2 separate regions of the Homo sapiens genome follow, and region 2 is linked to region 1. Evidence: fine-mapped expression QTL. A gene starts in region 1. The other region holds a variant in brackets. All regions are shown on one strand. Distances are between the middles of the regions.

Region 1 (8,345 bases):
TTAAAACAATACAAATTTATTGTTTTAAGTAAAGCAAATTTAAAAGTAAAACAATACTTAAATGTATTGTTTTACCATTTTGGAGGTCAGAAGTTCAAAATGAGTCTTTCTTAGTGAAAATCAAGATGTCAGCAAGGCTGAATTCTCTCTGGAGGGTCTAAGGGAGAATCTGTTTCCTTGCCTTTTCTAGTTTCCAGAGACCACCTGCATTCCTTGGTTCATGGTCCCCTTCCTCCATCTTCAAAACTAGCGGCTTAGCATCTTCAAATCTTTCTCTGACTTTGATATTGACTCTCCTGCCTCCACCTTTCAGTTATAAGAACTCTTGTGGCCAGGCGCAGTGGTTCATGCCTGTAATCCCAGCACTTTGGGAGGCCAAGGCAGACGGATCACCTAAGGTCAGGAGTTCAAGACCAGCCTGGGAAACACAGGGAAACCCCATCTCTACTAAAAATACAAAAATTAGCTGGGCGTGGTGGCGGGTGCCTGTAATCCTAGCTACTCAGGAGGCTGAGGCAGGAGAATCACTTGAACCCAGGAGGCGGAGGTTGCAGGGAGCCAAGATGGCGCCACTGCACTCCAGCCTGGGTGACAAGAGTGAGACTCCGTCTCAAAAAAAAAACAAAAAACAACAACAAAAAAAACAACTCTTGTGATTACATTGGGCCCACCTGGACAATCTAGGCTACTTTCCTCATCTCGGAGTTTACTGATTAACAATCTTAGTTTCCTCTACAACCTTAATTACCCCTTACCAGGTAACCTAATATATTCACAAGTCTCAGGGATTAGGATGTGGACATTTTGAGGAGGCATTATTTTACCTATTACATCTATAATTTCACTAACCAGGAATAACTACAGGTAACATTTTAGTGAACAATTCTTCTCAGACCATTTTCTATGCATATGTTTATAGAGATATACCTATATACATCTCTATAGATATATGGACTTGTAAAAATTAAATATTAATTGAATACTGTACATTTCTTTTTCAACTTGCTTTTCCCACTTTATACATATGTATGTGTATGTACATGTAAATTTCTACCCATTATTCTTAATAGGTACCCTATTATTACTTTATCATTAGTGTTTTTTAAGTATCTACCATGTGCTCACTTAATTTAATCCTTTGAACAATCCTATGAACTGAGAACTCCTATCACCGTCACCACCCCTTTAGAGCTGAGACACTGGCAGCATGAGCTGGGAGGCTGTCTCAGGAGATACTCCATCCAATCAGTAGTGGAACGCATTTAAATCCACCAGAACCCAAGCTCTTAACCACATGGCGGATTGCCTTCTAGATTGTTCCACTGCATGGATGTCCCATAAATTACTTAACAACAGTGTCCTACTGTAGATCATTTGGGCTATTTTTCAGTATTTAAAACAGGACTGCAATAAACAAGTTCATACCTATGCCCATGGACAAACCTGTGATTATTTCTTTAAGAACAATTCTTAGAAGAATTACTGTATGTCAAGGCTCCTTACACAAATTTCCAAATTGTCCTTCAGATAGTATGCATATTCCCAGTGTCAATACTTTGAAGTATTATTCTTTTTAATCTTAATATTATGAGAAAATGAGAGTATTATTTTTCTTTGAATGCTAATGAGGGTAAATGTTCTTTCCGTATGTTTCTCGGAATTTTTTTTCTTTTATTAAGTGATGATTCATGTTGTTTGCCTAGATTTCTATTTCAGAATTTATAAAGTTTCCTTTGAAAAATTGTGGTTGAATTTTGTACAGGGCATCCCATATAAAAGGAACCATGAGACAAGTTAGAAGCTGATCATCTCTCACAAAATATTTAATTTATAAAAATTAAATATTAATTGAATACTGTACGTTTCTTTTTCAACTTGCTTTTCCCACTTTATACATATGTATGTGTATGTACATGTAACTTTCTCACAAAGTTCAGGGAAAAAGAAAGTATTAGAGACATGAAGGGAAATAGAGAAATGTAAGAAAATCTGTAACAAATCCAGTAAGTGGGGAGGACACAAAATGCCCCCTTAAGATTAGCCTTTATTCATAGATAATGGAGAGCAATGTGATCCAAATGATGCGATATGTAAGAAGAGTCTTCTGGTGACAGCTTAAGGGTTGCCTTGAAGTAGTCCAGTCTAGATATTTCCAGAAGAGAGAAGTATATCACAAGGAATTTGTTACAAGGGGTATAGAAGCCAAAGGGTAAGAAGATAAAGAAGACCCCAGACATCAGAGCTGCCATAACACCTGTACTGTACGCACAAGCTCACATATAGTGCTGAGCAGCTGGAGACTGCTGGAGTCACTTGGCTCCTACTCCTGCCACTTCTAGAGCCACCAAAACTGCTGGGACCTACAGTCAACTGTAGCCTGAAACTACCACTTCTGGAGGCAGAAATGCATGATTTCTCGGCCTTCTAATCTCCCTCAAGTGTTTCCCATTAGTGGAACTTACCAAGAAAACAGGTGGCAAGGACATCCAGGAAATTTCATATCCAGTCTTCTTACTCCTGCCACACAGAGGAGGGCCCAGAAGGGCAGGAACAGATTTGAATACCAATAGACCAAATCCAGCAAAAAAGGAGGATGTTGTCCAGGATGGTTTCCAACACCAAAATATGGCACTCCCTGGATGAAGGAGGCCTGGATTCTAGAACTAGTTCTGCTACTGGTATGCTGTGTCCCCTCCAAGGCAGTGTTGCACAGTGGTTTAGGATGTAGCTCAGTGCCCTCACTTGCAAAGCAGGCAATAATACCTAGCTCAAAAGATTATTTGTGAGGGTTAAATGGGGTACTGCAAAGTATTTAAAACAGTGCCTGGAACAAAATAAGCATTTAACAATTGATAGCTATTGTCATTGTTACTATCATTCTAATTTCAATTTTGCCATCTGTAGAGAAAAGAAGAGGAGGGTTGAATCACCTTTGCTTCTCTCTAACCCACCAGAGGAAAAGGAACTGACAGACTCAACCTAAGCCTCATGCTAAGCTGAATTTTGGAGATGCAGAGAAAAATGAATAATATCCTCCTGTCCCCGTCATCACAGAGCTCACAGTTCGATGGGAAGACAGAGAAAAATCACTATGATTCAAGGCAAAATGTGCTCAGTGATGTACTAGATACAAGGAAAGTTCTAAATTAGTACAAAAGAAGGTTTTGTAGCATAGTAGAAAGAGTCATACAGACTTCACTTTATTATTTTATTTTATTATTTTGAGATGGAGTTTAGCTCTTGTCGCCCAGGCTGGAGTGCAATGGCGAGATCTCGGTTCACTATAACCTTTTCCTCCCGGGTTCAAGCGATTGTCCTGCCTCAGCCTCCTGAGTAGCTGGGACTACAGGCACGCGCCACCACGCCCGGCTAATTTTTGTATTTTTAGTAGAGATGGGGTTTCACCATGTTGATTAGGCTGGTTTTGAATTCATGACCACAGGTGATCCTCCCGCCTTGGCCTCCCAAAGTGCTGGGACTACAGGCGTGAGCCACCTCGCCCGGCCCAGACGTCACTTTAAATCCAATATTATCCTCTTGTGGTCTTGAGCCGTTCATTTAGTCGCCCGCGCCTCAGTTTACGTGTCTGTAAAAGTGGAGGTACTAAAAGAGCCTGCTCACAAAGTCCTTGTGAAGATTAAGTGAGCTACTGTATATAAAGGTTCTCCTGCAGTATCCGGCACAAAGATGCGCTCAAAAGTGATCATTATTATGATTCCAGTGGCCCACAAAAAAGATACAGGCCTGAACTAACGCAATGGAAATTGAAAGGGGAAAAATTAGCTAAAGAGAGAGTCATTCTTCCCAGACTGCTTAATTATCGTGGATAAAATTAGAGAACCAGGAGGGTACCTACTAGAGGTGCGGGCCACGAGGGGGCGCCCCACGACCTCGGTGTCCTCGTTGCCCGTGGCAACCGGCAATCCTTGGCTCTGGCTTAGGAGGCGCTCAAGTAGAGCGGCAAAATGGCCCTGAGCCCCTGGACCCCAGGGCTGGGCGCTGGCGAGAAGCTGGTGCAGGCGGCTGCCGTCTCCACTGGCCCCTCCCTGGAGTTATGCACCTTACCCTCCACCCTGGGCTCCTCGGTCGCGGTCGAGGCGCTGGAGCAGCTGTTTGTTGTGGGTAAGACGCCCCTCGGGCGCTGGAAGGGACGTCTCCTCAGAGGTGGCGCTTAGGAGGCACTCAGCGGGAACCCTGAGCGGGGACTCTCCTCCCGGAACCAGGGCATCACTGGGCAGGGCAGAGCCTTCTCCCCGCTCCTTGGAGGCTGGGGAGAGAGAGGTGGCGGGTGGGACCAAGTGCCCAGATCTCCTGCCCTAGCGCAGCTGAGGTGACTTCGCTCAACCCTCAGTAGTAGTTAAATTACTGAGGTGACAAATCCGGGACTCCCAAGCCACTGCCCTATGCCTGCGACCTGATTACACACCTGCATTTAGATTATGCCTTCGATTTCAGTTCTCTTCTTGCCGTTCCTTTACAAGTTAACTTCCTCCGACATTTTGCCGTGGCAAACTGGAGAATTTAACAAGCAAATAGGAAAGGGAGTGTTTAAGAGGCTTCTGTTGTGTTGAGCAAGAAAAATTAGATGTAAAGGGTTGTTTAGGAGATTCTAATAGAAAATGACCTTGGATAGGGCCAGGTTAAAGTATTTTTCAGTTAGAAAGCTGAACCTGTAATCAAGTCACTTAAGCTTAAGGTAAGACAATCCAAGAAAGGGTGTTTCTTGTTCGGTGCAAAAACCGTTTAGGCCAAACAACAAAACATTTCAGTGCTTCACTAGAATCATCCCATTTCTTCAAGATAATCGTATTGATTTATGTTACAATGTTACTATTAATTTGGGATAGTTTTTATTTTCCTTCTTAAATGCGCTAGGTTAATTTCACAATTCTTAGCAAATATGCTTGGGTAAATGTTATCATGAAGAATGTTGGCCGGGCGCGGTGGCTCATGTCTGTAATCCCAGCACTTTGGGAGGCCGAGGCGGGTGGATACCTGAGGTCAGGAGTTTGAGACCAGCCTGGCCAACATGGTGAAACCCCGTCTCTACTAAAAATACAAAAATTAGCCGGGCGTGGTGACGCACGTCTGTAATCCCAGCTACTCGGGAGGCTGAGGCAGGAGAATCCGTTGAACTCAGAAGGCAGAGGTTGTGGTGAGCCGAGATGGTGCCACTGCACTCCAGCCTGCGCGACAGAGCGAGACTCCGTCTCAAAAAAAAAAAAAAAAAAAAAAGGAATGTTACCCACTGAGGAGACCTAAAGTTATTAAGACCTAAATTATTCACATGTATCTGAGGTCACTGTCAATGACAGACCTAGAACCTTGAACTCTTTTCATACTTGATCTCTAGATCGGCATGCCAATGCAACCCTAGTACTTATGTACAAATACATTTTTCTGTTAATGTCTAGACACTCAGAACATATTTCATAGGAAAAAAAAATCATTACACCCTCTTGCCCTGAGTTATAAAATATTAATATGTAAATCTCCAGCACATTTGTCCTCAAGGAGCATAAAATATATACCTAAATTATAACATTATGGAATAGGAAATAAGTACAAAAGAGATTAGTGTAATGTACAATAAAAATTCAGAGACTGAAGATGTAACTTCCAGCCGAGTAAGCATTTGAGCTAGATCATAAAAGGTTAAGTAGGATTTGGATAGATAAATAAGAGATCTTTATTTTCTAATTTTTTTTTCAGAACAATCACTGCAAAGTGACTATTTTAAATGTAATGAAGAAGCTAAGATCTTTCTTAAGGACATTGCTGTAGCTGTTAAGAAATTGGTATTGTATTATCTATAAGAACCATTTCTTCAATCTTCCACATATTTCTTCAAACTTTCATTTCGCACCAATTCTGTTCAAAGTATTAAGTAGATGACTAGGGAATATAGTTACCCTGAACTTAAAAATATTTTTCTCTCAATTTTGTAAGGATTTGCACAATTATTGATCAACTGTGGATTGTTACTTGATTTTCCATGAAGAAAACTAAATTATGGGCTTATGGCTGTGGATGAGGGCAAGCTCATTTAGAGAAAGCAATGTGGGTGATAATACGGTTCAGTTAAGAGGTGGACCACATGGGCAAATGCTTGGGACACCAATATATAAGCATTGCTTAAAACAAACAAACACACAATCTCTGGAATAAATTGCAAGCATGGTGCTAATTAACTCAGTTCTCTGTAAGCAATTCCTTGCATAACTGGTCAAAGATTATTTGACATATGTTCCACTGAAGTAGACGGTACTGTTAGTGAAAACAAAGAGAAACTCTTTCAATTACACTTAACTGGCCCCTATCAAAGACATGTTGAAGAAATATTTAAAGAATTTCCTTCTGAGGTGTCACAGACATCTCTGTTCGGCCAAGGATCACATTGACAATGCTTCCTTGGCACAGTCAGAGTAGTGAAGGCTCTCCATTTTATTTAAAAATATTGGATAAGAATTTACTACATATCAAATTGCTAAAAATGTTGAAATATGGCTGTAAATGAGTTTGAATCCACAGACTGCTGATAAAACTCTTACTACTTTATATTTTATATAATTATACACATATATATATCTATACTACATAATCATACTTTACAATCCTACTTGAGTAGGTACACGTAAACACTGAGGGATCATGTGTGTTGTGCAGCTCTGTGGTGCTGTGAAAACATTTTTCCCTGCTTGGTTCTTTCTTTCAGTTATGTCTTTCGCTAGGATTTTAAGAGGCCAAAATATTTATTGTGGTTAAAGTATCTAGTCTGTATTCATTTAATATCTGAGCCGTGAAATCTCTTAAACAACAGAGATCAGGCTGGGTATGGTGGCTCACGCCTGTAATCCCAGCACTCCGGGAGGCCAGGATGGGTGGATCACTTGAGGTCAGGAGTCTGAGACTAGCCTGGCCGAGACATGGTGAAACTCCATCTCTACTAAAAATACAAAAATTAGCCTGGCAAGGTGGCGGGAGCCTGTAATCCTAGCTACTTGGGAGGCTTGTAGGAGAATTGCTTGAAACCAGGAGGCAGAGGTTACAGTGAGCTGAGATTGACCCACTGCACTCCAGACTGGTCAACAGAGTGAGATTCCATCTCAAAAAAAAAAAAAACAAAAAAACAAAAAACCAGATCAATCCTTTTATTTTTAAAAGTAATACATGTTGACTTTGAAAAATTAAGAAAAAATAGATAAGCAAAAGGACCACATTAAAATAATCACTATTAATGCTGATGAATATACTTTCTATTTTCAGGGTATAGGTGATAACTGCATTGAATTTCATTTTTTACAGAAAAGTGATGATGCTATATATGTAATTATATAGTCTGCTTTTTATAATTCATAAAATATAATGGCAGTTTCTCAGGTCATAAAATAGCTATAGCTATTATGACAGTTTATTTAAAAGATGATTTATCTATTTTTTCCCACCAACTGATTTCTTAGCAGTGTTTCCTTTCTTAAAGTAGCCTCAGCTAAAAGTAATAATAACAGCTTTACCTACTTGTTTGGGTTTGTAGGTGTGTATGAGAAAACCATTTTTTTTATACCTAAGCATATTTTTATAGGCAATTTCCATATTTTAATAAGTAGCTTTCTTTCTCAATATTACTATTTTTGTTAGTCTTTCCTTTTAAATGGATTGAAACTGCATATAAGAAACAGATACTCATAAAGAAAAGATAATTTCTCAGTAGAATAAAATCAATAGAAATTAAGAGATAAACTAACAGACACCTTAAATAGTGATTGTAGATACTTTTCCCAGTTTCTGTTCCAAATAAAAATAATGGCAGAAGATATTTAGTGAAATTATATTTTGACCCCTGAAAACATTTGTAGGGCATTGTTTAGGAAATCAATCTTACTATTTTAGTGTCTTAACTTTTTAAAAATGTAATTTAAATTTTCAGGAAGAAATGAGAAAAGCCACAATCGATCTTTTGGAGATTGAAAGCATGGAACTCAACAAACTATACTATCTATTGGAAACTCTTCCCAATAGCATTAAGAGGGAATTGGAAGGTACTTTTGAGGTTATCAACTCTAGAAATTTAGTTGATCTTATAACAGAATGAAGTACTTTCAACAAGATAAGTTTCATAGTTATTGCTCATGTAAGATAGAGCTAGAAAGCATACATGACACAAACACAGTAAGGTCCGTAATAATTTTCTTTTATATTTTAAGTGGAAATAGTATATATAACACTTGAATTTATATAATTTGGTTTCTAAATAGACTATAGATAAATGGATCAGCCCATTCCAAATTGGTATTTATCCAATTAAATTAGGCAACTTGGCTGGCCTAAACCATCATTCTACTTTC
Region 2 (8,345 bases), 100 kb before region 1:
TTGCCATAAATTTTAGAACCATCCTGTGGATAAAGTAGAGAAGTCCTAATTATAACTTTTGAAAAATATGTAAATTGTATAAATCTTGGCAGTAAAAGTAATGTGAAAAATCAGTAACTGGAAAGGATATAAATGATAGTGAAAATGCACTGAAGTTTTTAAATTTTATATAACAGGAACTACCTCAAATTACTAAATCTAGAAATACTTACAAAACAGATCATTTAATTAAATCATAGTAACCACCAGAAGTAAAAAAATAAAAAAAGTTAGAAGAGTGAGGTGAAGGGAGGGAGAATTTAACTTTTAAAAAGCCTTATTCTAATTAAAATTAAAGTCTTTCTCTTTTTGTGATTATAACATTGCAAACAGAAAGTGCACTGTATGTACTTTGCTTGGTCATTAGAAAACTTTAAATGCAGAAGCCTTCTGAGCCTGTGAAAGTCAATCACTAAAATTACTACTTTTAAGGCACTAACTCAAAGGGCAATCCTTGGTAATAAGAATCAGACAAAGACTCTCAAAACACCAGAGTACTCTTCATAGTGAAGAGAGCTGGCGTTGGCAAGAGCTAAAAAACAAAGAAAAGCAAATTAGATGGATCACCAGTTTTCTTTCATGGCAGACAAAAGCCCAAAACTCTTATCTGACTAATAAGGTCAACTACCTGAAACCAAAGATACTAAGGAAATAAGAGAGTAATTCTAAAGCAAGAGAAAGAAGCCCTTCAAGGGACCTACTATGGAGATAGAATACTAAATACTCTATGATCTAACCTTTCAGGAAATAGAAATGAATAAACAGATTTGTAACTTGGCTCACCTGGTTTGAAAAACAAAGAAAGTTTTCAGAAGTTGTGGTAAAAAGCCATCATTTGTGACATTTAATTCTACAGTGAATGGATCTTAGGCAAGTATATTACAAAGTGTTTTGAGACTGGCCAGAGACAAATTCTAACTAAGCTTTTTTTTTTTCAATTTTCTAAAAGAAAGTTAAATGAAAACCAAAAGAAACCCTAGTATTAAATGCCTACTGAATTGACAGATAAAGATGTGTATTGAATCCACGTCATTTCAAATCTGCAAAATGTATTTTCCATGTCAGTTATATTAGAAATGCATATTTCACTTCCCCTATCCCAGGATGATTTGGAAATATTTAGATCAGAAAATAAGTCATTGTGTTAATACACAAAATTAATACTACCTTCATACAACTTTAAATGGATTAATTAACGTATTTTTCAGCTATATAAAAGCAAAGAGTTGATGCCAACTAGTGATTTCCAATAGAAAGAGAACATGAGGTTGAGTCTGGAATAAGCTTCAGTATAGGACCAAAATAATGCGTTAGTAAGGAGAAATGGGATTGGCAGATTCATACATCAACCATAGTGAATGTCACCAAATATCTTGTGTCAGTTGACTTTTAAATATTAACCGAGAACCAAAATGTCACTCCCCTAGGTACAAATCAAATTGCTTCTCCTTTCTTTTGCCTGCACTCTTAAATGCTGAATAACCTCATAAGTAAGATTTCTATTAGGCAAATTAGTGCATGCGTATTAGGAACCACAGTTTCTGGAGTGGAGTTCAGTGGGACTAACTATATTCCCTATGATTAGTCACTTTAATCATAGAATTATGAGGAAACTCATAAATTATCAAATCATATTCTCAAAGCCTTTTTTAGCAATGCTTAACCATGTGCTCTGTAAGTATACATTTGATTTTGTTCCCTAGAGACAATTGTTTCTGTTTTATGAAGTGTGAAACATTACTCATTGGCAATTATGAGTAACTTTTATACTTGTTAAGTTTTATTGTTGTGTTAATGTAAACAGAAACACTTGTGTTTGTTTCCATTTGTTCAATACACATTTATTAGGCATCTACTTTCGCCAGAAGCTGGGAGATACAAAGATGACCATGAGTCAGTTCCTGCCCTCTAGCAATTCAAAGGAGACATAGGTATAAACTTCAACAGCAGGAAAGGCAAGTGGAATCCTTCTGTGGGGGCAGAAGTAGTCTATCTACCCAGCAGCCAGCACAATGCATGGTATAACATTGGATGTGTAATAAATCTTGTTCAAATAAATAAAATAATCATGAGAAGATGTACCAGAAATAGTAATGCCATAAGGAAAGGAAGACAAATGGAGTTGAACCTTGAGCTAAGTCTTGAAATATGGAGCAGGTGAGAGAATTTCAGTTGAAGAAAAGAATGTGTGTAAAGTCCTCAAAGGGTGAAATAGCATGTGATTTCAGGGAATTAGGATAATTCCATTTTTCTGGAAAGTATGTCAGTGGCAAAGCCATGGGAGATGAAGATGGGGAGATGGGAAGGAGCCACATTAAAAAGCACATGCTGGATCTTCTAGCTTCTTAAAGGGTAGCACCATGATCAGATTTATGTTTAGAAAGATTTCTCCATGAGAAGGACAGATTGGTAACCAAAAGGATAGTTAGAAGATCACTAAAAAAATCTAGTGAGCAGTGACGAGGGTCTAAACTATAAACTAAAGCTGTAGCAGCTGAGAGGATGAATTTGGGAGAGATTTGGAAAGTAGAAATCAAGGTTTGAGGGTAGGGGAAGGGAACAGTGAGACAGAAACAGGAATCTGGGATGATCCTTGTGTTCTGATGTGATTAGCTGGATGAAAAAGAAGGCTGCTTAGTGGAACACGATCTGAGAAGGTGATACAGGGAAAATGAGTTCATAGATGCCTAGGAGACATTCAGGAAGATTTATTTAGTAAGCAGTTAGTGACCTGAACCTGGAACTCAAGAGCTAGGTCCAGGCTGGAGATTCAGAGCTGGTGGTACCCATGTCTGGTGGTAACTATGAGCATGAGTGAGAGAGCCCAGTGGAGAATACAGAGTATTAGTGACCCAGATTCATTATTTCCCAGTGCCTACTGCAGTGTGTGGTTTGGGGATGGAATTGATATGACACTCATCATTGATAATCATTATTGGAGCTAGAAAAAAGGGTTGAAAAAATAGTATGGAGAACATTTTGGCATTTTCAAATTACCATTTTTTAAGATTCAGAATGATTTTCTATTGAGAGACAGTTACTCATGGAATAAAACATATGAATCAAGAACCAAGTAAATTAAAAGCAAAGTAACTGACTTGTTTTTGTTAGAGGAAATATATGTTCATATGTCTAAATTAAGAATTGTTCATAGCAAATAATGCTTGGTAAGTTTTTGTTGGATTTGTACATGTGGAAATCTAAGATGTATTTAATAAATATGGAAATAATAAAATAGATTTGTAGTTTTATGAGCACTTAGATGAAAAGAGAAGCAGAGAAAAAAGAGAAAATGGGAAATAGAGATAGACACACACATACTATTAATATAGAAACTTATAAAAGACAAAATAACTGTAATCCATAATTCAACCACCACTGTCAAAATTTCAACATATATTCTATTATTATGTCTGTACATATTTTTGTATACTTGTTATGTTGGCTGTATAAATTCATATACTTCTTTTTTTAACTTGATATGATAAACATTTTCCCAAGTTATTAAAAACTCTTCATAAATATGGTTTTTCATGACAGCATAAAGATGCCTATCACTTTTCAGTTACTTAGTTACACATTCTCTATTGTTCAACATTTAGATTTTAGCTTTAAAAAACTTTAAATACCACTCCATTGAGTATCTTTGTTTATAAGGCTTTGTGTTCATTTCAAATTATTTTCTTGAGATAGATTTCTGGAAATAGAATTACCATACTAAAACATATGAACATTTTAAGGCTCCTATTGCCAAATTGTGTTTTAGAAAGATGATACAAATGTATACTTCCATCAGCTTTATGTGGCAATGCCTGGACACACTAAATAATACAGCATGCTATAAAGCCTTGTATTTGGGTTCATTGGGAAATTGGTAATTGGCACTAACCTTGTATTTTATTCAGTGAATTCACTGATTAGCTCAAATTAGTAAAGATAGACTTATTGTAAACAATGACAACTATCTCCTTTTTTATTTAACTTTTATGCAAAATAACTTTAAAATGGAATTCAAAACACACTTCCCTATATTTTGCATGGTTTCACTTGGAAATACTTCTCCAGAAGGAAAGAAATGCTTCTCTAACTGGTATGGAGGGAAAGAGGGATTGCTCTTTCCTTTTTAGTACTATTAAGCAACAATTGTCTATTTTGGAGGAGGTTTATGACTTCTTTCAAAAACAAAGTATCCCATTTTTTCCCCAGAGCAAAGC[T/C]CTTAGAAGGCAATAGCTAAGAGCTATGTTACTAACATGATTGTTCTAGGAGGAGCACTGCTCAGCTCCCATGGCAACAGGTACCATGGAAATAGACACACTTTGTCAGAGGTATTGTAAATGCTATTGGGTATGAGGGCAGTAGTTGCAGTGAAATTTCATTGTTGCTATGTTGTAGAGGTTGCACAACACACCAAGCCTTATTTAGATTCTGTTGATAAGTCTGACCTGGTTTTTAAGAAGTTCTATTTTTTTAAAAAAGAAAAACAAACCCCAACCCCCAACCTGTTAGACCTAAGATAAAATGAGAACAATTTGCAAGGTTCAAATTGTTCTGTATGGAAGCTCTGGAAAATTATATGCAAGTCTGTATGGAAGCTCTGGAAAATTATGATATTTCAGAGAACTGTGAACTTTGAAGTGTCTGTGGCAATAAGTGATAGGTTGAGTGTGAATAACTTAAATCCAGAAGTCATCCCCAGACTTCATTTGAGCTAAACAGTTCAGCTTCTTCTCATAGGTCAGGTCACTGTTAATTTTTGCAGTGACAATGATTAACAATGAAATTATTAAGAGTGATTACTAATATAACACCTGTTTTGTACTCTGCTGTTTTACTGTTCAACCCTTTTTAATAACCATTAAAAGGTACCTATGACTAGTACTATAAGCAGATTCATCCCACAGTTGGGGAAATTAAGGCATAGAGAAGAAATAAAGACCTCATGGTCTTAGCTGGAGAGAGGTAGAGTCTGGATTGAGAAAAGTTAGAGCTCCAGTCTCTAGCCTTATTTTACAAACATTGATACAATGGTAAAGATGAAACCTAAGTCAAAGGGTGTATGGGTTATCATTGGTGGCTCTGTTTGTTTAATAGATAACTCAATTTAGCAGAGAGGGCTGTACTATTGTTTCATTTCAGAGCACCTGTGCAACTTCTGATGCTTAAGAGGGAAATTGAGAATACTTCTCTAATTCATACCCAAGCCACCCTAACAATTACACATGATAATACTCAATACAAAATGTCAAGTTAGGGATTATCTTGGCCTTTTTCTAGTAGATTCCTACCTGTTCCCAGTCTTTTCCAGACACTGTCATCCCTCACAATCCAATCTGTCACTCTGCCAGGAGCCAAGAGGATTCAGATGCTATCCCTTGCTTTTTGAAATCACAGTTGAACTCAAGAACCCAACAGAGTTAGATACTAAGACCCTGCACCTGTATCTATGGTCCTTAAACTTATATGTGCATAAGAATTACCTGGATAGCCTGTTAAAAATGTACATTCTCAGCTTCCCATTCTGACTAAGTAAGCCTGGGGTGAGGCCCAGGAAGCTGCATTTTTAACCAACTCCCCCAGTGCTTCTGAAGCAGGTGGTCTGTGGTCACGCTTTGAGAAACCTGAAGATCAGCATGTCAGTCTGTTAAAGTCTCTTCCACACCAGTGAGCCTAAGGACAATGGGGACAGTGGAGGTTGAGGAAGGGGCAGTAGTGAGAAGGGAGGCCTGTACCTCTGTGCCTGGGAGCCCAGCAAGGAACCTTCAGCTCTTGAGGTCCCAACATGTGCTGTGGCCCACGCTGGACCTCAGTATGTGGGAAAAAGCAACCAGCTTTCAGAATTCACAAAGGATGAGGCACAAGGTAGAGAAACAGGGATGCTGCAATCTGCAATCTGAGTGCGCTGGCCCCTGAGTCAGTAAGAGTTGTCTGTAGATACCTAAATGTTTAAATCAATTTTCTTCTCTCAGACAGTGGAATCCAGAACATATATTAAAAAGAGACCACTTCCAGCCTGTAGGAAAAATGAAGTTTTGTAGCTCATTGATGGCTTCTTTCTTGCTGTTAGGAAGGCCAAGCCAGAGAAGCTAAAATGATTGAGCTAGGCCATTTTCGCATTAGCATTCAACCCTTAAATAAAACTTTGGAGAAAAGACCCCTTTTCACATTCCCCACGCACCCCTACCACCACTGCCTAAGCTTTGGCAGCCTTCCAAATCCTCCAGACCCCAGAACAGGACTTGTCCCTGGGCTTGTTTTCCAGGGTTTATATGACGCCCTTGTTCCCTTCTTGGCAATTCAAGTGAAACTCACCATCTCAGGCCACAGCGTGGTAGTCATTGTTGTAAATAGCTTTGACTATTTATTTTTCTAAAATGCCTAGAATAGCATTTAGATGCCAAGATCCTGGGAGTGAGAAAAGAATGTTATTTTTGTAAGAAAGACTATTTTAGGGGACTGTTCTAACATTAAGAGACAGAAATGGGCCATGTGGTTTGCTAGGAAATTTCCTTGCAAAGCTAAAATCCACATTACTGCCTTTCATGACTGGGGTAGTTAGTCACTTTCTCACTTTATTTTAAATGAGGTCATGATTCCTGAGTTATTGTCACCTTTGGAAGCTAGAAGGATGGGTAAGTGCCAAGTGCTTTGAATCTACTCAAGAGAAAGCCAACGTACAATGGTTTTCCATTTACCTGTAGAAGGCAGGTCCATATCATCTTTGAAAAAATAATTACGCCTGTTCTTTGCATCTCCCGCCTCAGGACCAGAATTTGTGTTTGTTTAGTGATGAAAAGTCTCCAATATTAATATTAATCTTTTTGTTTGTTCTGTTTCCTTTGCCATCATGCTCTGTCCACTTACTGCAGTATTTGACTCCTTGAGATACATTTCAAATCATAAATCTCTCCTCATGGCTCCTTAAAAAAGTGAATCTTTCTCGTGTCCCTACTTTCTTGTGTCCCTACTTACTATTTTTATTACCAGATTATAACCATGATTTCCTCATTGACCACAGCAGTGGGGTACCAGCATCCCTGGAAAAAGATGTCTTGAATATCCTACAATGAATATCAAATGGAGAGAGCCTCTGCCTGTTCAAGGCTGAAAATCTGAGAAAAATAAAACTCACGTTGCTTTTTAAATTCAGAGATGTGACCACTGTGAATGTATTGCATCAACATAAGTCAAATATTGGTACCTATGGGTATAGAAGGATTCAAAGGCTGGGGTCCTGGAAGAAGAGGGTCAGAAAGCATCAGAAGGAGGAAGAGCAAGACTTGCAGACAACCCTGAGGTGGGAGCCAGCTCCCCTCACTCAGAAAGTGTGGGCTGGTACACCCGATAGGAATGGAGCAGGGCGCACATGGAGATTTGGGGTGAGCTCTCCTTTCCTAAGTAGGGTACACTGACAATGATCAATCTGTTCCCATCATCTGAACTTATAATGCCTTCCCAGAAAACCTCTTTGGGCTACCATCATACCTCTTAGAGAACAAGCATATATCTAAGCCTCATCACTTTTCAATGCTGCGGTTATTTCTGATGTTTCCTGGATTTAAGAAGTAGTGGTTTACTATTTTTTCAGTGTTTAAGAATGACCTTAGAAACCCGTTAAAGTGCATATGCTAGGGCTTCATCCCCAGCAATTCTGATTTGATTGATTGGGGATGGATCCAGAAATTTTTATTTTTAGTGAGTATACTGAATTATTTTAAAGAAGATAGTTAGGTTAGCAGAGCTACTCTTTGCTTCTTTTTACTTCCACCTTTCATGTTGTCCTGCCTCCTCTTTGATCAATACATACTATGTTTTTGCATGTGCCCTTTGCCCTCAAAAGTCTTTTCCAATCATCGATTAGGTAGGTATCATCTAAGCTTGGGTTTCTCACATAATTTCGTTAATGCTTCTTTGCTTCAAATTTTGACTTACCTTTAAGGCCATATAACTACTGATACTTAATTGAACCTGTTCTCTAATTGCCACCACTGCAGTTACAAATGATGATGATGATATTTTCAAGGTTATTTATTTATATCACAGAAAAGAACAGTAGCACTTGCTATATACTTAGAGCTTTCTGAGGATCAGCTATACACATAAGACACTGACTCATTAATTTTTACAGCTTCTGTGCAAAAACTAGCTAAAATTGCTTTCCACTTCAAGTTGAAGACAGTTAGTCATAAGTATACATTCCAGCATTAATTTTTTTCCTATTAACTTTGATGCATAAGGTTTATTTATTTAATGGATGTTTCTGGACTGTCTGCCATATGTCAGTCACTATGCTAGGTATTAATGATACA

Direction of the effects. Alleles are on the strand shown, and positions count from the first base shown. SD is a standard deviation of normalised expression in the study named.
In carriers of allele T in region 2, the expression in tibial artery of the gene that starts at base 3,929 in region 1 tends to be lower than with C alone (moderate effect, 0.49 SD a copy in GTEx).

The links. PIP is the estimated chance that this variant, and not a neighbour inherited with it, causes the effect.
Region 2: its variant is fine-mapped to the expression of CCDC175 in tibial artery (GTEx, PIP 0.96).

What each region holds. Positions count from the first base shown.
Region 1 is chr14:59,572,396-59,580,740 of GRCh38, reverse strand. It overlaps CCDC175 (coiled-coil domain containing 175), which reads left to right and starts at 3,929. Exons shown (of 20, transcript NM_001164399.2): 1 at 3,929-4,122; 2 at 5,713-5,798; 3 at 7,928-8,039. The coding sequence starts at 3,966.
Region 2 is chr14:59,676,083-59,684,427 of GRCh38, reverse strand. The region is part of intron 3 of RTN1 (reticulon 1); the gene reads left to right. Among named protein-coding and RNA genes, the nearest start is that of MIR5586, 33 kb to the right of the region's middle. The variant T/C (reference allele first, on the strand shown) is at 4,254.